Linked DNA regions of Homo sapiens: all the other regions are linked to region 2. Evidence: fine-mapped expression QTL. A gene starts in region 2. Each other region holds a variant in brackets. All regions are shown on one strand. Distances are between the middles of the regions. Region 1 overlaps COL1A1 (collagen type I alpha 1 chain). Region 2 holds the start of SGCA (sarcoglycan alpha). Region 3 overlaps PPP1R9B (protein phosphatase 1 regulatory subunit 9B).

What was found. PIP is the estimated chance that this variant, and not a neighbour inherited with it, causes the effect.
Region 1: its variant is fine-mapped to the expression of SGCA in aorta (GTEx, PIP 0.97).
Region 3: its variant is fine-mapped to the expression of SGCA in whole blood (TOPMed, PIP 0.95).

Annotation. Positions count from the first base shown.
Region 1 is chr17:50,183,408-50,191,407 of GRCh38, reverse strand. It overlaps COL1A1 (collagen type I alpha 1 chain), which reads left to right. Exons shown (of 51, transcript NM_000088.4): 32 at 1-25; 33 at 484-591; 34 at 812-865; 35 at 1,028-1,081; 36 at 1,300-1,407; 37 at 1,496-1,549; 38 at 1,676-1,729; 39 at 1,870-2,031; 40 at 2,133-2,240; 41 at 2,398-2,505; 42 at 2,613-2,666; 43 at 2,771-2,878; 44 at 3,259-3,312; 45 at 3,425-3,532; 6 more. The coding sequence ends at 5,906. Among named protein-coding and RNA genes, the nearest start is that of COL1A1, 14 kb to the left of the region's middle. RefSeq lists enhancers at 1,593-2,146, 2,147-2,702, 6,025-7,015. The variant T/C (reference allele first, on the strand shown) is at 4,866.
Region 2 is chr17:50,162,876-50,170,875 of GRCh38, reverse strand. SGCA (sarcoglycan alpha) reads right to left here and starts at 4,871. Exons shown (of 10, transcript NM_000023.4): 1 at 4,799-4,871; 2 at 3,389-3,508; 3 at 3,140-3,294; 4 at 2,857-2,929; 5 at 2,304-2,502; 6 at 1,622-1,784; 7 at 525-733; 8 at 210-236. The coding sequence starts at 4,835. It overlaps LOC105371818 (a long non-coding RNA gene), which reads left to right and starts at 4,519. Exons shown (of 4, transcript XR_934833.3): 1 at 4,519-4,858; 2 at 5,397-5,665. RefSeq lists an enhancer at 6,777-7,277.
Region 3 is chr17:50,140,032-50,148,031 of GRCh38, reverse strand. PPP1R9B (protein phosphatase 1 regulatory subunit 9B) reads left to right here. Exons shown (of 10, transcript NM_032595.5): 2 at 2,787-2,919; 3 at 4,314-4,434; 4 at 6,659-6,763; 5 at 7,804-7,939. Among named protein-coding and RNA genes, the nearest start is that of PPP1R9B, 6.6 kb to the left of the region's middle. RefSeq lists enhancers at 406-1,074, 1,075-1,745. The variant CTTCCCCG/G (reference allele first, on the strand shown) is at 3,061.

The sequences.
Region 1 (8,000 bases), 21 kb before region 2:
TCTTCCAGGGCCTAAGGGTGACAGAGTAAGTTCAACCTTCCCCCTCCCCTGAGCCCTACATGGCTCCCATCTCTGCCTGCTTTGAATCTCTCAGCATCTCTCCTTCTCTCTGGGATCTGTCCCTCTTCTCGCTAATCCTCCCTTCTTCCCCTTTCCCCTCTGGCCTTTTTGCTGATGAATCCTCTCCCTGTGGTCCAGGCCCATCTATCCCCATGGGTTACCATGGTGATGAGAGGTGGGGGCATCTCCTTGGTGGAGGCTCCCTTATTCATCCCGCTACACAAGTCAGGGGCCTCTTAACCTCAGTTCCACCTGAGTCTCCAGGCAGGCACCCTTTTTCCTGAAAGAATCTTTGAGTCCTTGGCCCAGGTGGAGGCAGGGCAGAGCTGCAGAGGGCCTCTCAGGAAACCCAGACACAAGCAGAACACTATAGGTCACCTCCTTGCCCCACACTGGAAATCTCAAGCTTATCCATGTCTTTAGGGTGATGCTGGTCCCAAAGGTGCTGATGGCTCTCCTGGCAAAGATGGCGTCCGTGGTCTGACTGGCCCCATTGGTCCTCCTGGCCCTGCTGGTGCCCCTGGTGACAAGGTGAGGTGGCCGCCTCCCCACCTTCTGCCCTAACACATAGCCTCCTCAGCAGGCCTGGGCACGGTTCCGTGGGGTTGCGTTGGGAGAGCAGGTCCTGCCAAACTGAGCTGTCAACCTGGGAACCTGGAGGGACCAGAAGGAGGGGAGGCTCTCCTGGGGTCATCTACTAGGAGTATTCAGGGGAGGCCCTGACCCTGAGCCTCTTGTCCCTTGCTCTCAGGGTGAAAGTGGTCCCAGCGGCCCTGCTGGTCCCACTGGAGCTCGTGGTGCCCCCGTAAGTACAGAAGACCTGTTAAGACCCCATACTTGGCCCTTCCCTCCCTTCACACAGCACCCCTGGCCCTGTCTGTGCCTTCACCCCTTGCCTCTCCCCTCACCGCATCCCCGCCTTCCCTCCTGTCAGCGCATCTCTCCAATCTGACTCCTTTTCTTCTAGGGAGACCGTGGTGAGCCTGGTCCCCCCGGCCCTGCTGGCTTTGCTGGCCCCCCTGTGAGTACCAAGACCCCCATCATTTTTCATCACCGACTGGGACCTGGGACCTCGAGGGACGGAATGAGGACAAAGGCGTCAGCCATCCTCAGGGGAGAAGGGTGGAGACGGGATTGTTTCCCACCCAAGCATCTTCCTGCCTCCATTACTGCTCCTCCCCCAGGTAGTGGAAACTCCTGCCTCCTTCCCTCCATTCACCGCCCTGCTTCCTCCCCCAGGGTGCTGACGGCCAACCTGGTGCTAAAGGCGAACCTGGTGATGCTGGTGCTAAAGGCGATGCTGGTCCCCCTGGCCCTGCCGGACCCGCTGGACCCCCTGGCCCCATTGTGAGTGGCTTGGCCCTCTGTGCCCACGAGGCTGGTGGGCTGGGACCCAGGACGGGTCCAGGCTTGATGCCTCTGTGCTCTCCTACAGGGTAATGTTGGTGCTCCTGGAGCCAAAGGTGCTCGCGGCAGCGCTGGTCCCCCTGTGAGTATCACCCGCCTCTCTGTTGAGCCTCTCCCCTCTCCCCAGGCAGCGGTGGCAGGTGAGGGCAGCTGGGTCGGATGAGTTGGCTGTTCTCCCTCTGACTGTTCCTATGTTCTCTCCTTCCAGGGTGCTACTGGTTTCCCTGGTGCTGCTGGCCGAGTCGGTCCTCCTGGCCCCTCTGTAAGTCTCTGCAGCAGAGTCCACTGCTCTAGGTTGGGGGTGCTGGGTGGGGGCTGCCAGAAGGATGGTGGGGCTGACTGAGGACCCAATGATGCACCAGAGCCCCCTGGAGTCTGACAGCCCCTCCTATCCTCATCCAGGGAAATGCTGGACCCCCTGGCCCTCCTGGTCCTGCTGGCAAAGAAGGCGGCAAAGGTCCCCGTGGTGAGACTGGCCCTGCTGGACGTCCTGGTGAAGTTGGTCCCCCTGGTCCCCCTGGCCCTGCTGGCGAGAAAGGATCCCCTGGTGCTGATGGTCCTGCTGTAAGTGCCAGCTCAGATCTCTGCAGCTCCGGAGGTGTGCAGAGCTGGGGAGGGGTCCCTGTGCTGCTCTCTGGCACCTCACCCCTGTTTGCCTCCCAAAGGGTGCTCCTGGTACTCCCGGGCCTCAAGGTATTGCTGGACAGCGTGGTGTGGTCGGCCTGCCTGGTCAGAGAGGAGAGAGAGGCTTCCCTGGTCTTCCTGGCCCCTCTGTAAGTGCCCCCCTCACCTTGGGGGGCCCTGAGAAAAACCATCACAGGACTTGGAGTGGGGCGGAGCCAAGGAGAACAGATTTGGTAGAGATGACTCCAGCGGACTCAAGGGTCCTCCCAGACCCTATCTCTGGCCTGACTCTTTCTTCTCCCTTAGGGTGAACCTGGCAAACAAGGTCCCTCTGGAGCAAGTGGTGAACGTGGTCCCCCTGGTCCCATGGGCCCCCCTGGATTGGCTGGACCCCCTGGTGAATCTGGACGTGAGGTGAGCAGTCCCCAGCCCCCATGCCAGTACCCTCAGCATGGCCATTGTGGCCTTGCCTAAGCCCTCTTCCCCGGCTGACTCTCACTTCTCTCTCTCTCTCTCTGCAGGGGGCTCCTGGTGCCGAAGGTTCCCCTGGACGAGACGGTTCTCCTGGCGCCAAGGTAAGATGGCAACACTCCATGACCACAGCCTTGTCTGCTGCTTCCCTGCCCCATCCTGGCCCTTCACCCGGGGCTGACCCATATTCCCCTGCTCTCCCCGCCAGGGTGACCGTGGTGAGACCGGCCCCGCTGGACCCCCTGGTGCTCCTGGTGCTCCTGGTGCCCCTGGCCCCGTTGGCCCTGCTGGCAAGAGTGGTGATCGTGGTGAGACTGTAAGTAGCTGGGCTCCAGTTCCCTGTACCTGGTCAGGCCAGGGACTCTTCAGGCCTCCTTAGAGGCCTGGGGATGGGTGTCGGACTTCACCCAGGCAGGGGGAGGAAAGGAGATCCTGCAAGATGTCAGGGCCTTAATCCAAAAAACTGAGTTAAAGCTCAGCCCCAAGTCCCCTCTCCCAGACAGGACCGCCTCTCCCATGAGTTGGCCCCAGCTCCCGTGAAGATTGCAGTGGGGAGGTTTCCCTGGGAGTTGGGAGAGATGGCCACAGTGGGAAGCAGCTGAGGAGAGAGAGATCCAGCAGAGGGGAGGCCTCATCCTGCAGCCCCAGCCTCAGCCTTCCCTGGCCAAGAGCTCATGCTTTCCTTGCTCTCCCCAGGGTCCTGCTGGTCCCGCCGGTCCTGTCGGCCCTGTTGGCGCCCGTGGCCCCGCCGTAAGTACCCTGCTGTGTCCCCCATGCCTTTAGAACTCTACAGATGCAGACAGTGCCCCACTCGATGCCAATGGAACTTCCGCCTGACAGTTTGTCCCTTTCTCTCTTCTAGGGACCCCAAGGCCCCCGTGGTGACAAGGGTGAGACAGGCGAACAGGGCGACAGAGGCATAAAGGGTCACCGTGGCTTCTCTGGCCTCCAGGGTCCCCCTGGCCCTCCTGTAAGTATGCTCAGCCCCTCCCCAGTCCCCATGCTGTGCTGTGGGATAGGAGGGGGAGCTTCGCCTCAGTTTCCCCCTCTGGATAGTCATTCTTTCCCCTCCCTAGTGGGGACTGGGGTCTGAAGATTTGTGGGCATGTCCAAGTAGCTTCTGAGAGGGTGAGGGGTACACAGAGAGGGATTATGGGAGAGGTCTCTGCCTATGGACACCCTCGGGCTAGATTTCCAGAATAATGAAGGGGCATGGGTTGCCCACACTGCCCTTGTCTCTCCAGCCAGGCCCTCAGGCTACATTTGACGCTCACTGGGCCTGAACTGCCTTTTTTATCTGTCCTTCAGGGCTCTCCTGGTGAACAAGGTCCCTCTGGAGCCTCTGGTCCTGCTGGTCCCCGAGTAAGTCATGCCTTCTCTCTCCTCTTCCTGAGCCCCAAGCCCAGGCTCACCTCGGGGACCCTTGCCAGGGACCCAGGCACCCTTTGCCTCTCTGGAGAAGGGTTCAGGGACAGGGAGTGGGCAAAGAGAGGAAGAATCCTGAACAAACAATCTGATCTAGCTTTGGCCTCTCTGCTCCCCAATCCGTCCTCCCCTGGCTCAGCGGCTGGGAGGAGCTATGGCATGTCCTATGGAAAGAGGCTGAGGCTGGCTCTATGAGCCGTGGGGCCAGAGCCAGCAGGGAGGGTGGTGGGCCTCTCCTCCAGAGCTGGGGTTGTTCGGGCTTCTGGCAGCCTTTCTCAAACCATTTCCCCCACTCCAGGGTCCCCCTGGCTCTGCTGGTGCTCCTGGCAAAGATGGACTCAACGGTCTCCCTGGCCCCATTGGGCCCCCTGGTCCTCGCGGTCGCACTGGTGATGCTGGTCCTGTTGTATGTAGCCCCTCATCCCCTCTGCTCATGGCCCTCCAGCCCCCAAAGCACTTGGATGCCGGTAATCCCCACTCTCTTCCCTCTCTGTGCAGGGTCCCCCCGGCCCTCCTGGACCTCCTGGTCCCCCTGGTCCTCCCAGCGCTGGTTTCGACTTCAGCTTCCTGCCCCAGCCACCTCAAGAGAAGGCTCACGATGGTGGCCGCTACTACCGGGCTGATGATGCCAATGTGGTTCGTGACCGTGACCTCGAGGTGGACACCACCCTCAAGAGCCTGAGCCAGCAGATCGAGAACATCCGGAGCCCAGAGGGCAGCCGCAAGAACCCCGCCCGCACCTGCCGTGACCTCAAGATGTGCCACTCTGACTGGAAGAGTGGTGAGGGCCTGCCCTAGCCTCTCCCTCCCTCCTACTCCTGCCATGCCAGGGTCCCCATGCCCATATGTGCCCCTACCATATGGTGCTGGCTGCTCCC[T/C]TTCCCTGACTCCATCTTGCCCTGCCCTACCACAGGAGAGTACTGGATTGACCCCAACCAAGGCTGCAACCTGGATGCCATCAAAGTCTTCTGCAACATGGAGACTGGTGAGACCTGCGTGTACCCCACTCAGCCCAGTGTGGCCCAGAAGAACTGGTACATCAGCAAGAACCCCAAGGACAAGAGGCATGTCTGGTTCGGCGAGAGCATGACCGATGGATTCCAGGTGCGTGAGCTGGACCTCAGAGCCAGTGTTAGGAGATGGGCTAGCCCAGTGCTCAGAAGGGACATGAAGTCCTGGAGTAGGTCTCTGCTAAGGGTGATGGACAGAGCTGGGCTGGGAGGCAGGGGTCTCAGGTCCCTGATAGTGGTTCAGACACAGGCTGCCGATGGGCAGGTGGTGCCTCCTCTCGATATAACGGTGCATTGGGCAGCTCTCTGAGGACCCTGGACAGGGAGGCCAGGCAGGACTAGAGGTTCCCGCATAGCGGCTCACTCTTCCCTCTCTCCCCTCCCCTGCAGTTCGAGTATGGCGGCCAGGGCTCCGACCCTGCCGATGTGGCCATCCAGCTGACCTTCCTGCGCCTGATGTCCACCGAGGCCTCCCAGAACATCACCTACCACTGCAAGAACAGCGTGGCCTACATGGACCAGCAGACTGGCAACCTCAAGAAGGCCCTGCTCCTCCAGGGCTCCAACGAGATCGAGATCCGCGCCGAGGGCAACAGCCGCTTCACCTACAGCGTCACTGTCGATGGCTGCACGGTGAGTGCCCAGAATCCCCAGGCAGGGCCCCACCTCTCCGGCCTTGGGCTTTTTGGCCAGGCCATAGTGCCCTCTCTCCATCACTCCCACGTGGTAATGCCCCCTCCCGTTGTCTCCGCCCCACCCCAGAGTCACACCGGAGCCTGGGGCAAGACAGTGATTGAATACAAAACCACCAAGACCTCCCGCCTGCCCATCATCGATGTGGCCCCCTTGGACGTTGGTGCCCCAGACCAGGAATTCGGCTTCGACGTTGGCCCTGTCTGCTTCCTGTAAACTCCCTCCATCCCAACCTGGCTCCCTCCCACCCAACCAACTTTCCCCCCAACCCGGAAACAGACAAGCAACCCAAACTGAACCCCCTCAAAAGCCAAAAAATGGGAGACAATTTCACATGGACTTTGGAAAATATTTTTTTCCTTTGCATTCATCTCTCAAACTTAGTTTTTATCTTTGACCAACCGAACATGACCAAAAACCAAAAGTGCATTCAACCTTACCAAAAAAAAAAAAAAAAAAAGAATAAATAAATAACTTTTTAAAAAAGGAAGCTTGGTCCACTTGCTTGAAGACCCATGCGGGGGTAAGTCCCTTTCTGCCCGTTGGGCTTATGAAACCCCAATGCTGCCCTTTCTGCTCCTTTCTCCACACCCCCCTTGGGGCCTCCCCTCCACTCCTTCCCAAATCTGTCTCCCCAGAAGACACAGGAAACAATGTATTGTCTGCCCAGCAATCAAAGGCAATGCTCAAACACCCAAGTGGCCCCCACCCTCAGCCCGCTCCTGCCCGCCCAGCACCCCCAGGCCCTGGGGGACCTGGGGTTCTCAGACTGCCAAAGAAGCCTTGCCATCTGGCGCTCCCATGGCTCTTGCAACATCTCCCCTTCGTTTTTGAGGGGGTCATGCCGGGGGAGCCACCAGCCCCTCACTGGGTTCGGAGGAGAGTCAGGAAGGGCCACGACAAAGCAGAAACATCGGATTTGGGGAACGCGTGTCAATCCCTTGTGCCGCAGGGCTGGGCGGGAGAGACTGTTCTGTTCCTTGTGTAACTGTGTTGCTGAAAGACTACCTCGTTCTTGTCTTGATGTGTCACCGGGGCAACTGCCTGGGGGCGGGGATGGGGGCAGGGTGGAAGCGGCTCCCCATTTTATACCAAAGGTGCTACATCTATGTGATGGGTGGGGTGGGGAGGGAATCACTGGTGCTATAGAAATTGAGATGCCCCCCCAGGCCAGCAAATGTTCCTTTTTGTTCAAAGTCTATTTTTATTCCTTGATATTTTTCTTTTTTTTTTTTTTTTTTTGTGGATGGGGACTTGTGAATTTTTCTAAAGGTGCTATTTAACATGGGAGGAGAGCGTGTGCGGCTCCAGCCCAGCCCGCTGCTCACTTTCCACCCTCTCTCCACCTGCCTCTGGCTTCTCAGGCCTCTGCTCTCCGACCTCTCTCCTCTGAAACCCTCCTCCACAGCTGCAGCCCATCCTCCCGGCTCCCTCCTAGTCTGTCCTGCGTCCTCTGTCCCCGGGTTTCAGAGACAACTTCCCAAAGCACAAAGCAGTTTTTCCCCCTAGGGGTGGGAGGAAGCAAAAGACTCTGTACCTATTTTGTATGTGTATAATAATTTGAGATGTTTTTAATTATTTTGATTGCTGGAATAAAGCATGTGGAAATGACCCAAACATAATCCGCAGTGGCCTCCTAATTTCCTTCTTTGGAGTTGGGGGAGGGGTAGACATGGGGAAGGGGCTTTGGGGTGATGGGCTTGCCTTCCATTCCTGCCCTTTCCCTCCCCACTATTCTCTTCTAGATCCCTCCATAACCCCACTCCCCTTTCTCTCACCCTTCTTATACCGCAAACCTTTCTACTTCCTCTTTCATTTTCTATTCTTGCAATTTCCTTGCACCTTTTCCAAATCCTCTTCTCCCCTGCAATACCATACAGGCAATCCACGTGCACAACACACACACACACTCTTCACATCTGGGGTTGTCCAAACCTCATACCCACTCCCCTTCAAGCCCATCCACTCTCCACCCCCTGGATGCCCTGCACTTGGTGGCGGTGGGATGCTCATGGATACTGGGAGGGTGAGGGGAGTGGAACCCGTGAGGAGGACCTGGGGGCCTCTCCTTGAACTGACATGAAGGGTCATCTGGCCTCTGCTCCCTTCTCACCCACGCTGACCTCCTGCCGAAGGAGCAACGCAACAGGAGAGGGGTCTGCTGAGCCTGGCGAGGGTCTGGGAGGGACCAGGAGGAAGGCGTGCTCCCTGCTCGCTGTCCTGGCCCTGGGGGAGTGAGGGAGACAGACACCTGGGAGAGCTGTGGGGAAGGCACTCGCACCGTGCTCTTGGGAAGGAAGGAGACCTGGC
Region 2 (8,000 bases):
GTTGCCCAGGCTGGCCTCAAACTTCCAGGCTCAACCAATCCTCCCACCTCAGCCTCCCAAAGTGCTGGGATTACAGAGGTCAAGGGAAGGGGTGAGCATCACCCTGGAGTTATTTATTTTGTCTCTGCTGTTCATGGCATAGTTTGGTGGCGGGGTCCAACAACTGTCTAGGTGGGCTCCCACCCCACCCCCAGCTTTCCTTTACTCACTCGGAGGTAGCCAGGTCTCTCTTCAGCCTGTGGAAAAGTGAAGGAGAGGGTTAGCCCAGCTCTGGGTTTCGCCCCAAGGTGCCCCAGGGCTCCAATGTGAGTGGAGGTCTGTGTGCAATTATCCACAATGCCCTCCTGGTGCCAGGCCAGGCAGGTCTCAAGCCCCAAGTTGCCTAGAAAGGGGCCCCACACTCCTTTTGTGCCTGAGAACCCCATTCCCATGGTGTCTGGGTCCCATACAGCACAAGTGCCACTGTGAGTCCCATGGGTGTGAGCTCCAGCAGGTGCTCCCCCGCCCTTCATGCCCACATTCACCTTCCCTCCCGCCGGCAGCACATGACATAGGCCAGCAGCAAGGTGAGAAGCAGGGCCACCAGCAGGGGCACCAGGAGGGTGACCAGAGCATCCACCAAGAAGTCACGGTCTGGGGCCTCAGTGGGTGGGCAGAAGAACGGGTCATGCTCCAGGATCCCATCACCTGGGGTGGGCACCTCATCTGCAGGCTCCGGCACTGACTTATCCACCTGCACAGAGAGCTCAGGGCTGACGCAGGAAGTGGCTGGCTGGACACAGAGGTCCCCAGGAACATGGCAGGGGCCAGGACTAGGAGGCAGGAGACACAAAGTCCAGCAGAGGCGGGACAGTGCACTGGTTAGCGCACAGCTCTAGGGTCTGACCTCCTGGTTTGAATCCAGACTCAGACAAGTGCTTAGCTAGGATGATTATGTGCCTCTGTTTCATCACCTGTAATGTCAGAAGGATAATAGTAGCACCTGTCTCCTGGAGTGGTGGTGAGCATAAAATATGTTGATGGGACAGTGCCAAGCACATAGCAAGTGCTCAAGAATGTTGTCAATTACCAGTCGCTGGCTGTGGACCCTGAATGAGTCCCTGCTCTGTTGGTCAATTCACAGGAACAGTGTACACCAGCCGTGGGATCCTGTGAACCTCAGCTCAGTATCCAAAGAGCTGTTGTGAGCATCTTTGGTTTATAGTGTGAAGAGCTATCAGATCCTTGTTGTAAGTGGGTTTGCTAGGTGGCACCTTACAGAAAAGCAGACAGAGCTGTCACGCAGAGGCCCTTGGTAGGGAAAGGGTTTGGGAACTGGACTGTGATATAGCTGTTGACCTGGGCAGATCTGGGGCGCGGGAGTTGGAGACCCCACATGCGGATTGCGGACTCTGTTGCCCTCTTGTGGGGGAAAGGTAGAACTTCAGGGGTGTGTGTGTGTGTGTGTGTGTGTGTGTGTGTATCCTCAGACTAAGCCTGTGGGCAATACTGAGAGCATCAGGGAAAGAAATGGTGACTGGAGCAATCAGAGAGACGGAGATAGGAAGCAGCATGGGAGGGAAGGGGGACTGGGATGGGGGCCATGCCCCACCCCACCCCCGGACCCAGGGTCCCTCCTCACCAGGGTCACATTGCACCAGTCAACGCGGAAGTGGGGTGCCAAGGTGTCGTAGCAAGACAGAAGTGGAGGCTGGCCCTGGGCACAGCGGGCGTGGCTATCGGGGGATGCCACCATCTTCAGGCAAGTAGAAAAAGGTGAGGCAGAACCCACCTTAATGTATACCCTGGGACCAGATAGAAGTCACTGTCAGCAGAGTGGGGGCAGGGGGCACGAGGCACCACTCTGCCAGGGGTTGTTGAAACTTTCCTAATTGTAGGCTATGACCTGGGGATGGGATGAGGGAGACGCCTAAGAGGGAGGATTAAGGGAGGAACATGGCACAGCTGGGGTCTGGCAGGAGTCACAGTCCTCCCAGAGATCTGAGATCATGGTGAGAGTACACAGGGCACCCCATTCTTCTAGGGGGTCTTACCCTCCCTACTAAGGAATGTCTTTTAATGGATGTATCTGGTACGTCCTCATGAGGCACCAGGAAGTACAGAGTTCAGGGTAACTAGGGTCTAGGCTCTGGAAGGACAAGGAGATGCGGGTATAGCCAGAGGAGAGTGGTGAGGGGTGTGAAGCTGGGAGGTGGAGATGTGCGTGGTAAAGCCCCACCTGGAAATTAGGGAGACCCTTGTTCTATGCCCGCCACAAGCTGCATCCTCCTCTTTCAGGAAGTCCTCTAGGGTTGCACACCTACCCTTCTTTTCGGCCCTCAATGGGAAGGGGGACACGGCCCCCACGGTCCAAGGCAGAGGTGACGTTGAGCAGCTGAAGCTCTCCGGGCTCCCAGAGTCCCCCCAAGGCTGAGAGGAAGCGGCTGGCAGGTGTTGAGGGCAGCACCTCCTCCGCATCGTGGCTGCGCACCAGGAACTCGGCTTGGTATGGCAGCAGGGGGCCTGGGAAGGCCAGGTGGACACCTCAGGCTGCACCCAGCCCCAGCTCTGCCCCGCAAAGCCTCCTTGAAGCTCCTCCCCACATCCCTGCACACCCCTTCAGGCCCCTCAATGCCCCATCCATCACAGACCCCAACAAGCCAAGTCCCAATAGTCTCTGCAACGCAGCGAGTAACAGAACTCCAGAGCCTGGAATCCCAGCCCAGCACCCATTCCCTGAGAGCCTTGTCCCCACTTTCCAGGATGCCCTGCTCCACTCCTCTCCAAGCCTCTCCTGTCCACAGCCCCCTCCCCCTCCGGGAGAGATTCCCCAAGACTGGCATTGGTGGGGAAGGGATGGGGCACAGCTAGAGGTACCTTCTGGGTCCCCAATCTCCAGCACCAGCCTCTGCCGAGTGGTATCAAAGCTGTCCCGATTGTAGGCTGTGACCTGGGGGATGGGAAAGACATCTGAGAAGTGGGTTAGGGGAGAAACGTGGCACAGCGGGGGCCTGGCAGGAGAGGACTCAGATACCAAATTAGAGGTATGTAAATTATATGTAAATGACTGTGAATGAGCACCCAATCCCAATTCATAGGGCTGCTCCTAGGAGGCCACTCTGGCCCACCCCTGTGATTTTCTCAGGGTCCCTGACGGCACCTCAATGACCTGGAGCCCACGATCTTCTGGGGTGGCAGAGCCGTAGAGGAAGCCAGGGTGGTGGGGGCTGCGCTGGGTGTAGCGGAGCCACCGGGGCAGGTCTGGGTGTCCCTGGAGGTGGGCGTGGTAGGTGATGTGGACAGCGGGTGGGACAGCTGGTGGAAGCGAGGAGAGGGGATTCGAGTCACAGCAGGAGCCCTGCGGGGTACACCCCAGCCCGCCCGCCTGGGTGCCTGTCAGGCCGCTCACCGACATGCTCAGGAAGGCTCAGAAACGTCTCATGGTCCAAGGTGTGCACAAAGACACGGCCCACAAGTGGGTGTAGCGTGGTCTGCTGGGCCTCGGTGTCCCCCAGCCCTGCCAGGAGAACTGTGGGGACCCCACAAGTCCCAAACACACAGGCCAGCCTCAGTCCTGGGCAGGGGATAAGCTCCCTTCCCCACCAAGTCCTTGGAGCCCCTAAGGGACCGAGAGAAGCGCTTCCTTTGCTGCCTCCCAGGAAGGGATTGGGGTGGGGATGGGGGAGCAAGCCCTGCTGGGCTAGACATTTTAATCGTCTGGGTTTCGGGATTCGAGGGAGAACCTCTCCCACAACCTTTCCATTCCTTGTTTTAGGCCCCTATTAATGGTGCAGTGGGCAGGGACTGATGTTTGACTGGGAAGTGTGTGTGTGAGGGTGTGTGTGTGTGTGAGGGGATGTGGGGGGGTGTGTGTGTGAAGGTATGTGTGAGGGTCTGTGAGGATGTGTGTGAGGGTGTGTGTGCAAGTGAGTGTGTGTGAGAGGGTGTGTGTGAGGGTGTGTGTGTGTGAAGGTGTGTGTGGGGGGTGTGTGTTTGCGGGGGGTGTGTGGGGGTATGTGGGGGTATGTGGGGGTGTGTGTGGGGGGTGTGTGTGACGGTGTGTGGGGTGTGTGTGTGACGGTGTGTGTGAGGGTGTGTGTGTGAGGGTGTGTGAGGGTGTGTGAGGGTGTGTGTGTGAGGGTGTGTGAGGGTGTGTGAGGGTGTGTGTGAGGGTGTGTGTGTGAGGGTGCCGTGAGGGTGTGTGTGAGGGTGTGTGTGGGTGTGTGTGTGTGTGAGGGTGTGTATGTGTGAAAGGCACTGGGAAAAGAATCCCATGCTAAATGCCCAAGAGCCCAGAGGAGAGGAAGACGGGGCCAGGAGCCTACAGAGGAGGAAGGGTAGCCATTCTGGGCCTGGAGACCCCCACCTTCCTCCCCTAAAATACAGGGAAGAAGAAGGCCTGCCCTAGAGGCCAGTAGGAGCTGAGCAAAAGGAATCCTAAGTCCAAGAGAGGAGCAGAGGACCTGGCCGCCAGCTCCACCCTCCCTCCCAGGGCCAAATTTAGCCTGGGCTTAGAAGCTGCGGCCCAGCCAGCTCATTAAAGGGCCCACGACCCTTTGGGCCTGTGCTGTCAGACCCACCCGGGCCCTAGGACACCTCCAGCCCTCAGAGCTCCCAGCCCCTTCATCCCAGAGCCCAGCTCCCAGCCCCATTCCCTGGATCCCCAGCTGGCCATGGCATTAACACCCCAAAGCCCTTCTGGCGCCTGCCTCACCCAACCCAGATCCCTCTTCTGTGGGCCCTCCACACCTCCGTCTTACCACCCCTAAATCCTGCCCCCTCATCCTGGGCCTCCCCGCTGAACAAGGCCCCAACTTGCCCACGAGGAGAGGAGTCCAGAAGAGTGTCTCAGCCATGGCTGCCCGGCCTGGCCCGCCCGGTGAGTGACAGAGACAGGGGGCAGGGAGGAGAGGAGGGAAGGAGGGAGGTGGCTCGGGGCAGCTGGGTCCCAGCGTCAGCCTCCCCTCCCCGCCTGGAGCATGCACCAAATCTGGGATAGACACCCTCCTCGCACTCATTGTCCCTCCAACCGTCCCCTCCAGTGGCCACAGTGTTTTTTAAACCACCAACCAGGCCACCTCCATCCTCCCTTAAAACTCTAATGGTTCTCATGGCCCCTGAGTTCCCAGCTCATCCCCAGTTGGTGGCTTTCTGGCCTGTCCTGAACCTGGTCAGCTGGTCTAGAATCCCATCCTCTGCCCCTACCCTTCCAACCCCAGGCCCCTGCTCAGCCTCACTCCGCTCCTGCCTAGCTTGGCAGACTCTCTCAAGTCTCCAAGCCGTCGTCCAGGCTATTGCCTCTGCCTGCAGTTCCCTTCCCACCTTCATTCAAGCAGCAACCTTCCAGTCACCTTTCCAGACTCTGCACAGATGTCCTCTCCTCTCTGAAGCCTTTCTGACCTCCCTTCTTCTGCTAGGCCAAGCTGGGTGTCCCCTTAGCCCCTGCGTGCTTTCCTGGGCACAACACAATCACACAGACTGCTCCAAGCTCCTCGAAGACTAGGATCTTGTCACGTTTGTATCCTTGGGCCTGGCACAGGGCCTGGTAACTAGTAGGTGTAGCTGGCTGGCGGCAGCTTCCTTAACAGCAAACGTAGGTGCCATCCACCCAGCCTTTATCCCCAGTCCAAGCACTTCAGCGTGGAGGTCTAGCAAGCCCTGGACAGGACCAGCCAGCTAGAGACAGGTGAGCGGAGGAGGCACCCTCTCTGGCCCATGGAGTCAGGGTTCATTCGGCGCATAGACTTGGAGGCCTGGAGGTGGGCCACCTTGGCCACTTGCTGGGGATGAGGCCTTGAGTGCACCATTTGCCCTCTAGCCCATTTCCACAACTATAAACTGGCAAGAATAGTGCTTGCCTCTTGGCATCATTGTGAGGACTCCACAAAGTAATGAATGCAGCGCATATTTATGAAACACCTGCTATGTATCAGACATTGAAATTGCAAAGATAAGCAAACCTCTGCCCACATGGAGGTCACCTGCCAGTGGGTAATACCAGCTAGCGCTGCCAGCTACTGTGCTGAGAATCTTACATATATCTACCTATATTACCTCATTCCATCTCCTCAGCAGTTCCATGAGGCAGGTATTATTACTGTGCCCATTTAACAGATGATAAAACTGAGGCACAGGGGTGTATACCTTCCCCAAGGCCACATTGCTGATGAGTAGAATGCATGTGGACGGCTTAGCCCAGTGCCTGGCTCAGTCGATGACTGTGCTGCTGATGTACTTGCCCGGCCCTGCTTCCCCTTCCTTCTTGCCTCTGCCAAAGGATCTCAGTCCAGGGGCGATGGGGCGCGGTGTCCTCTCCCCAGGTCTCTCACTTAGGGCAGGCACAGGGGCACTCTCCCCAGGTGCCCTGAGAAGGGGGCGGGGACCTATGGCTGCCAGGGTTCCCAAATCCTTGGTGCCTGTGTGACCTCTCCTCCAGGGCCTCAAAAGGACAACAAAATACCCCAGGCAAGGATCACTTGGGTCCAGCCTAAGGGCACAGGTGTTGGCCTGCAGATGGGGTGACTGGTAGGCAGGTTACGCAGTCCTTGTCCCTTCCTCTCTCTCTCTCCACCTGACTGACCCGCTCATCCCTGGAGAGCCACCAAATTCCAGAGTCAGCGTCCCCTCAGGCAAGGCAGTATTTGTCCCAGCATCACCTGGCCATCTCTCTGTCTTCTCAGAGACAGAGGGAGGGAGGAAGAAAGGTTCTGGAGGCAGAGGAAGAGCCCAAGGGTTCTGGGGGAGCAGGCAGAAGTGCCAACCCCCTGGGCACCTGCCCAGCCTCACCCCTGAGCTTCTCCATGTGACTCCCCGCCCCCTGCCGTCCCCCTGGCTATTTTTGGAGCCACCCACTCAGCTGTCTTAAGGTAGCAGTGCCTGGCCCCAGTGTCACCAGGCCCACAGAGGCCAGCCTTCCTTAATGAAAAGCTGCAGCTACTTCCCCATCAGATCCTCCCTGCCCAATTCAAGGGAGCCAGGGACTGTCCCACAAGCCAGAAAGTCCCCAGAAACCCTTCTCAGGCCCCTCAGCCATCAGAGGACCTTCCCACTCAGAGCTGTCTGGATTGCAACCTGCTGCTTGTAACACACAGCACCTTCTGTCTATTGGGCCTAGGGGTGGGAAGGGAGGTCACAGGGTCTTTAAACTTCTTAGTTTGAAAAATTTGCAGCATACTATAATAAGCCCCCGTGTATCTGTCACCTGGCTTCAACAATTATCAACTCATGGCCAGTCTAGTTTCATCTGTACCCCTCCTGATTAATTTCATCCATCAATATTTCAGTGTGTATCTTTAAATGATAATGACTCTTTTTAACATAATCACATAACACGTTCAGCTATTAACATCATCAATAAAATTCCTTAATATCAAACTTCTAGTGTTCAAATTACCAATTTCTCATAAACATACATATTTTTACAGTGTATTTGTTTGACTCAAGATACAAAGAAGATACACACATTGCAACTGATTGATGATTTATAGGGCTTTTTTTTTTTTTTTTTTTGAGACAGAGTCTCGCTCTGTCACCCGGGTTGGAGTGCAGTGCCATGATCTCGGCTCACTGCCACCTCCACCTCCCAGATTCAAGCAATTCTCCTGCCTCAGCCTACAGGCACGTGCCACCATGCCCAGGGGTTTCACCATGTTGGCCAGGCTGGTCTCAAACTCCTGACCTCAAGTGATCCACCCACCTTGGCCTCACAAAGTGCTGAGATTACGGGCGTGAGCCACTGTGCCTGGCCAAGGCTCTTTTAAATTTCTTCAAATCTATAGGTTCCCATACATCCTTTCTCTCTCTTTTTTCCTTCCTCCCTTCCTTCCTTCCTTCCTTCATACTTTCCTTCCTTTCCTCCCTCCTTCCTTCCTTCCCTCCCTCCCTCCTTCTTCTTCCTTCTCTCCCTCCCTCCCTCCTTCTTCTTCCTTCTCTCCCTCCCTCCCTCCTTTCTTCCTTCCTTCCCTCCCTCCCTCCCTCCTTTCTTCCTTCCTTCCCTCCCTCCCTCTCCTTCCTTCCTTCCT
Region 3 (8,000 bases), 23 kb after region 2:
AGGTCCGCCCCATGGAAGTGTCCAGGTCCCTGGACTCTCCTTGGCCTGGACCCTGCCCTGCCTTTACCCTTCCCTAGCCAAAGCACCATCTGTTTGCTTGTCGTTTCCATAACTACTCCTGGACTCTGAAGCTTCCCAACTTTCCTCTCACTCGCCCAGAATGTCAGCCTCTGCCCCTCTCCCACCTCCCACCCCAGCAAGAGGCCTGAAAGGTTAAAAGTGAGTGGCTCTCAGGCCAGCCTCTCCCCTGGGCTGGGACCTGCGGGGTCCTCTCCCAACCCCTTTCCCCTCCTGAAGGCAGTGGGGTTCTGAAGGGAATGGGGGACTGTAGTGTTTCTTGGGACTCTGAAGCAGAGTTTGGATCCCCCCACCCCACCCCCACTAATTTTGCGAGAAGTCCGATTCCCTCAGAGTTGGAGTTTGGTCTGGGCCTCTGACTGTCTATATTTGACGCCTTACCCTGATTTTTCAGTAAAAAATAGCACATGATTTGGAGCAGTGCTTCCCGGCTCCCTGGTGACTTTGGAGCTGGCCCGCCCTGTGTGAGAGCCAGCGTGTGTGGCGGGCCCAGTGTGGCTGGCTTTCAGCCTCACTGGGGATTTCCTCCTCCCCACCCTGGCACAGGGGCCCCACTTTTTCTTCTTCCTGCCCCTGCCTTGATGCCAAGTCCAGGGTCCCGGTCCCCATGGATGACCCAATTGTTGCCCTTCTGGAGGTGGAGGCCTCTGCTGAGGGCAGAGAACCCAATTCCAGCTTGGCCTCAGGGAGGTGGGACCTCCCCTAGGGCCCTCTGCTAGACCGGCATATCATGGTGGGCAGCCCGAGGAGGGGTAGGAGGTGGTCTGGGGCCTCTGAGCCCAGGCCTGGGATTCCTGCAGGCGGCAGGACCAGAAAGGGAACAGGATTTGATAGGCTGAGAGAAGAGGGCAGGGTGCAGCCCAGGACAGGCTGTGAGGTGTGTTTTGGAGGTCACAGCGGGCGTGTGTGTCCATGTGTGTCAGGGAGGGGTTTCGTTGACTCAGGAGACTGTAGAGACTCAATGATGAAGGGACCGTGTCTCCTAGAGCAGAGGGTGAGAGTCAGGGGACTCCAGTGCAAAGTGGGCCAAATCCCACTGCTGAGTCCAGGCTCACATCAGCCCTGTCCCAGAGCCTGGGGCATGTGTGCAGTGGAAACCAAGTCACCGGTGACCCACCCACCTGTCCCAGCTGGGTGCAGTCTCATTCTGCCTGGCCACAGTTTAACCCATGTGACCTTGGGCAGTGGGCCTGGTGCCCTGGACTATGTGCAAGGTAGGCAGCCTGTTTGTTCGAGGGGTGCAATGGACAGATGAGCTTTAAGGGCTGGAGCCAGAGTTTCTCTGATGCTGTGAAATTGAGGGCATTGAGCTAAGTGACCAGAGGGGTCCCTCCCACCTAAGCCTTCTAGTCCTATGAGCACCCCCTCCCTCTCCCACTGTGGCAGTGAGCCTCTCTGGTAGGGGGTGGGGACGACACGGAGCAAACCCAGACAAAGGCTGGGACACGAGAGTGCTGCTGCCCACCAGGGTGCCCACAAGGTCTGCTCCTGGAGGAGACGGGCCCTGACAAGGGCCCTTGGGGGAGATGGGGTCCTAGTCTGACTCCTCGGGGCTCAGACTCAGCCAACTGATAGAGCTGTTCCCCATCCCTCCCCGCCCCCGCCTGGCTCCAAGTGGTGCCAACCTGTCACTGCAGGCGATGAAGCTTGAGCATGTCATGGTACCCCAAATGGTGCTCATTAACCTCCCACTGGGGGCACCCCTGCCTGGGCCCAGAATTAGACATTCCCACAGAGCCCAGCCCCACCTTCTCTGTCCTTCTGAGGGAGTCAGAGCTGAGGAATTCCTCTTTTTGCTGAGAGACATTGGAGAGAGACAACAGAGGGGTACAGGAGATGCCAAGGCAGGGGTGGCCTCGGAGCCCCATGGCGCCTGGGTTCGCTGTGGGCAGTGTCAGAGGCTGTCCCCTCCTCAGTCTCCTGGGCCCCCTAGCACATGGACAGGGGGCGTAACTTAGAGAGCTGCAGTTGTGGAGGGAGAGCGGCCTGGGTGTGCAGGGAAGGCCAGGCCCAGCTTTTTCCCCTGCTTCTGCCACCCGAGGGGCTCCTGGGGATGGAGGGCCTGCCTCTTCTCCACGGGGATAGAGATGGTCTTTCCTGCTTCCCTCCCCTGCTCCAACATCCACTTGAGCGGCAAGTCAGAGCCAGTCCTGGGTACCTCTCCCCTTCCACCCCTCCTGCTCCCCTCCTCCTCTTCTGTCTCACACCCGCTCCCCCCTCTCTCCCCATCTGGCATTCTCCAGCATCTTCTCCATCCTCTCTCCCCTCCTCCTCTTCCCCTCTTCTGCTCAGCCTGTTCCTTCCTCTCTGTGTCTGTCTTTGTGTCCCCTCTCGCCTGTCTGGCTCTCTGGGTCCTATCTCTCACTTTCCCTCTATCTGGGTGTCTGGGTTCCTGAGTTGGACGTTTCTCCAGGATTCCCCTTCTGTGCCTATGGCAGACCATGCTCACGCTGGTTGGAGCTACAGAGAGAATAGCAGTGCGGGTCTGCCAAGGCTGGGTCCCTTTCTGTCTTGACCCTGGGCTCCAGAACTATAAGGGCCTTTGTTTTGCTCAGAGCTGGGGTCTCAGGGGACTGGGTGAGGCCTCATCTCAGGGCTATCATGGGGAGGCATGGGGTGGGTAACTCAGCCTGCCTCCTCGGCCTCCTCATGCCAGTTCTGCACTTGTCCTCCTGCCGGCCTCTCTGACCAGCTGCCTCCCTCCCCAGGTGTTCAGCACTTACTCCAACGAGGATTACGATCGTCGCAACGAGGATGTGGATCCCATGGCAGCCTCTGCTGAGTACGAGCTGGAGAAGCGTGTGGAGAGGTTGGAGCTGTTCCCTGTGGAGCTGGAGAAGGGTGAGAGGCCAGGAGGCCACGTCACTTGCGCACAGCTGGGGTTGACCCGGGTCTCATCTCTGGCACCAGCTCCTGCCCTGTGCCCTCAGGGGCTCCCACAGACTTGCTGGGCCTCTCCCTCTGACTCAGGCCCTTGGTGAC[CTTCCCCG/G]CTCCTCCCTTGTCAGCACCCAGAGCAAACAGGGCCTCCAACCCAGGCCAAGCCACACCCCCACCACCCCGGTCATGGAACCACATTTGCACATTCAGTTAACAGGTCTCTGTAGGGTACTGTGTGCTAGGTCCTGGGCTCTGTGTTGGGGACACAGTGGTGGGCTCCTGGGGAGATGGATGGGGGAGGCAGACATGGAAGGCACAGTCACATCTAATCTCACCCTTAGGCGCTGGAATAGGGGCTGGGGAAGGTAAGGAGGGGCCACTGTAAAAGCGTTTAACAGGTGACCTAACCAGACTGTGCTTGGGGGCATTCTCCAGGGAAGTGAAGCTTGAGTTGCACTCTGGTGAGGAGGAATTAGGGGAGTAGTCAGGAAAGGGGCTTGGCTGCATTTGCATAGGGAGGGCAAGAAGAGCATGCAAATGAGGCCTTGCAGACCACGTGGTCTTGTTGCTAAGATGGATTGGGAGCCATTTCGAAGCACAGGAAAGGTCTAGAAAGACCACACCAGGCTGTGATGTAGGGAGGGGGTCACAAGTGGATGGAGAAAGGCCACTGTGGCGTGGACAGGAAGATGGCAGAGCGGGTGTGGGTGGACTGGAAAGATCTCCAGGGGTAGAATCCATAGCATCTGGGGGTCATTTGGCTCAGGTGGAGGCTGTGAGTGGGAGGGAGGAATCCAGGTGCCTCCCAGGTCTGGCAGGTGGCAGGTGGTGGTACCATCCCCCATGAGGGAGTGTTTGTGGGGGAAGGTCATTAGTTGGGACATCAGAGGGCCATGAGTCAGGCAGGGGCAGGTGTGGATAGGGGAATGGACCTCAGGGGAGAGAAAATCTGGAGGTCTTTGGTCCTTGAAGCTATGAGTACAGATGAGACTGGCTGAGAGGGAGAAGACCAAAGGCTTAGGGCTGAGTCCCATCCTGGCTACCCCCATCCTGGCTACCCCCATCCTGGCCACACGCCCTGGTCTGCATATGCAACAGTCTTACCTGCCTGTGCCACCCTTGGCACGCTCTTCTGCCCATTGGTTCTTTGGAAGGGACAAAGGGCAGGGAGCGGCTCAGGAGCCATCCTAGTAGACTTGGCAAAGACGGTGGACAGAACTATATCCCTTCTTCAGTTGTGGGACATCCCCTAATGGGGACTGCTTCCTGATGGGGGGGCTGTGCCCTGGAATTCGGGGTGGAGAGTCTCTCGTCTGTCCCCTACAAGCCCTGCCATCTCACCACTCTCTGTTCCACAGACTCCGAGGGCCTGGGCATCAGCATCATCGGCATGGGCGCCGGGGCAGACATGGGCCTGGAGAAGCTGGGTATCTTCGTCAAGACCGTGACGGAGGGTGGTGCGGCCCATCGGGATGGCAGGTACCAATCCTCCCCAGTCTCGCCTGACCCTTTTTCCCTCTCCGACCGGCCATCCTTGGTGGGGTGGGCCACTGAGCAGGGGGTGGGGCGGGCCTTCCCTGGGAGATTTCCGTGCTGTGTGTGCAGCTGAGATGTTCGGGGAGCACTGCCATGCCAGGTGCTGTTCCAGGCCCCAGAAATACAACAGTGAGCACTGTCAGCCCCTATGCCCTGAAGGAGCGTGTGTTCTCCAGGAGGGGCTGGTGACCATGGGGGCTATAGGCGTGTGTTGTGCATCCCGGTCTGGAGTACAGTTTGGGCCCTGGTAGGGAGAAGACAGGCATGGAGTATATTTGAGCTTTTTTTTCGCTGGACATTGAGTCTCTGACAGTGTTGGGCCGGTGCTGGGCCCTGGGAAGTCAATGGTGAGGGCCTGGCGCACTTGAGAAGTGTGCAGTGTGGTGTGAGGTAGACATTGAATAAATGGACACACAAAAGGTAGTGAAATGGAGGGAAATGCAGACTGCTGTGAAGGCATACAACAGGAGGGTTTAATCTCTCTGGGCATTAGGGAAGGCTTCCTGGAGGAAGCAGTGCTGGAGCTGAGAGCTAAGGCTGGAGCAGGAGTTAGCTGTGCTGAGGGAGTGAGTGCAGAGGTTCCAGGCAGTGGCGCCATGAGCAGGCAGGTGTGGCTGGGGCATAGAGAGCAGGGGCCAGGAGGCTGTGACTAGACCCATTGATGGCAGTGGCTCTGGAGACAGGCTGTCTTTGCGCATGTGAGTGTGTGTGCCTGTATTGAGCATCTGTGGTTGCAAGGGGTGAGTTCTGTGGGACAGAAGGTTCAGGGAGGGCATCCTGGAGCTGTGTGCCAGCCAGGGACCCCTGTGTTAGCTGTGTATTCCAGGGGTGTGGGGAGTGGCAGTAGGAAGGGCTGTAGGGCATCCCCCAGGGTGGCTGTAAGTTAGAGGTGACATTGGGGATCTCTTGTGGTGGTACCTCCAAACCCAGACCCCCTCCATGTGACAGAGGTGAGCAGGTGTCCTTTGGGATCTGGGTGACTTTGGGATCTTGTTTCTAGAGATGGGGCTGCCCTGTCAAGGGGCTTCTACCTGTTGTGGCCCAGGTGGCATGGAGAGGGGCCGGGAACAGGATACCCTTTCATTTACCCCTTCCCCTCCCAATGTGAACTTCCAGAGCCTTTCCCATTGTTGCCTGTGGGTTGTCTAAGGAGTGAGTGTGCATGGTGGCCGTGGCCACTCACTCATGCCCACCTGGGAGTGGCATGTGTTGGGGTGAGCTGTTGACAATAGGCCATTTCCTCCATTTCCGTGTGGGAGTCCTGAGAGAAGGCCTGGAGCTCCCAGGGAGGTGGAGTGGAGGAGGGAGGTGTCTGAGAGGCCCCCCACCCTCCATCTCCCTCAGCAGGCCAGACTGAACCTCCCCTTGTATGGAGAACACGGGCTTCAGGGGACACAACTGGAGTGTGTCGGCAGGTGCACCTGTATCAGGTGTGTGTGGGACAGTGTGTGAACTCGAGAGAGTGCCATTCGGTCTTGGGGACTTGGGAGGACATCTGTGCACTCAGTTCTGTGCAGAAATGTACACGTAAGAGGGTGGCATGTCACTTGTGTGCTGTGGGGCTCCTGGCCAGTGTGCATGGCAGAGATGAACTCTGAGAATGTCACACCGCTCAGTCAAGTATGATGAAGGAGGGGACAAGAGTGTGATTGTCACAGGAAGTGTGCCTGCCGCGTCTCCTGGTCCTGGACGCCTGTGTCTGCTTTGCTTGCCTGGCTCTCACTGCCCACACAGGTGGGCCTGGCTGACACTTAATCCTCTGGCCTTGTGAATGTTACGCAGGTAGACAAAGTACCAGGTCCCTGTGAGGACAAAGTATCTGTGAGGTTTTTTGTTGTTGTTTTCTTTTCTTGTTTTTTTTTGTTTTTTTTTTTTTTTGAGGCAGGGTCTTACTCTGTTGCCCAGGCTGGAGTGCAGTGGCGCAAACACAGCTCACTGCAGCCTTGACCTCCCTGGCTCAAGTGATCCTCCCACTTCATCCTCCCAAGTAACTGGGACTACAGGCACGTGCCACCATGCCCAGCTAATTTTTCTTTTTATTGTTTGTAGAGATGAGTTCTCACTATGTACTCAGGCTGGGGAGCCTGGAGTTTCTGATGGGAGGAGGCTACCTCTACCCTCGCTCCTCGGTTCCCCTGTGACCCCTTAACCAATGTCACTCCGCTAGGATCCAGGTGAATGATCTCCTGGTGGAGGTGGATGGAACAAGTCTGGTGGGAGTGACCCAGAGCTTCGCGGCGTCTGTGCTCCGGAACACCAAGGGCCGAGTGCGGTGAGAGCCCAGAGGGGTGGGGCGTGGGAGCGGGCAGGAGGTCCTCGTCCAGGCACTCCGTTCACCTGCCTTAACAGCCAGTTAAGGTTCTGGTGGCCCAGCTCACAGAGGTTCTGCTGACTCCTTGGCTGCAGGAGTTGCTGTGCCTGGAGTCCCTCGCCTCACACCTGCCTTCTCATCCCAGCTCCCTGGCAACAGCTGGCCACCAGTACTCAGCCTTCCTGGCCCACTGTCCACCAGCCCTCCAAACTGTCCTCTAGGGCTTCTTCTCCTTCCCCCTACCTGTCCCTGACTCACTGACTGAAGAACCAGGACGTCCAGGGTGAATGCTAACCATATTGGGGTCCCCTCATTGGGACCTCATGCCCCCCACCCCGACCAGCCCTATGTCATCCTGGGAAGACTCCGCCCCAGGCCTGTAACCAAGGGGACTGGATCAGAAGCTCCCTGTGTCCACTCTACCTTTGGCTTAACATTCAGGGATCACTCCCTGCCCCCCTGCAAGAGGGGTACTACCCCCAGGAAAGGGTGGTGGAGAGAAACAGGATGTGGGTGGCCACCGGGAGGAGGGGCTGGTGCCTGGAAGTTCCACTATTTCCTCTCCATCCTAATCTCCAGTTGCCATCATCCCGCCCCTTCCTGAAGCTCAGGGGCTTGGAGCATACCCAAGAAACACCTCCGCAGCCCATCCCTGCTGGGAGGGTCATCTTCACCTTTCCCTGCCTCATTTTCTCCCCTGTGGCAGGGGAAGAGCCTCCTCAGTGCATGTCCCCTGCAGCACAGCCTAGAGGTGGGCTGACATTCTCCCTCCCGCAATACTGGCCAGAGGGGTGAATGGGCCTTCCTGCCTCCCTTGGGAAGGAAACCTGATAAGGGCCCTCATTCCCCCATTCATTATTAACACTGCAGCCTTCGGACTCAGCCCTCTCATCTCTCCTCCCCTGGGAGGGCCTGAGTTTGGAGAGGGGAGCATCAGCAGGGAGGATGATGCATTACCTGGCTGAGGACAGAGGCAGCGGATGATGCCGGTGCCCCTGCAGGTTTATGATTGGCCGGGAGCGGCCGGGAGAGCAGAGCGAAGTGGCCCAGCTAATTCAGCAGACTTTGGAACAGGAGCGATGGCAGCGGGAGATGATGGAGCAGAGATACGCCCAGTATGGGGAGGATGACGAGGAGGTAGGGAGTCCCTGCCTGGCTGGCCGCGTGGTCGCCCCCTGGTGGCTAGATGAAGCATTAC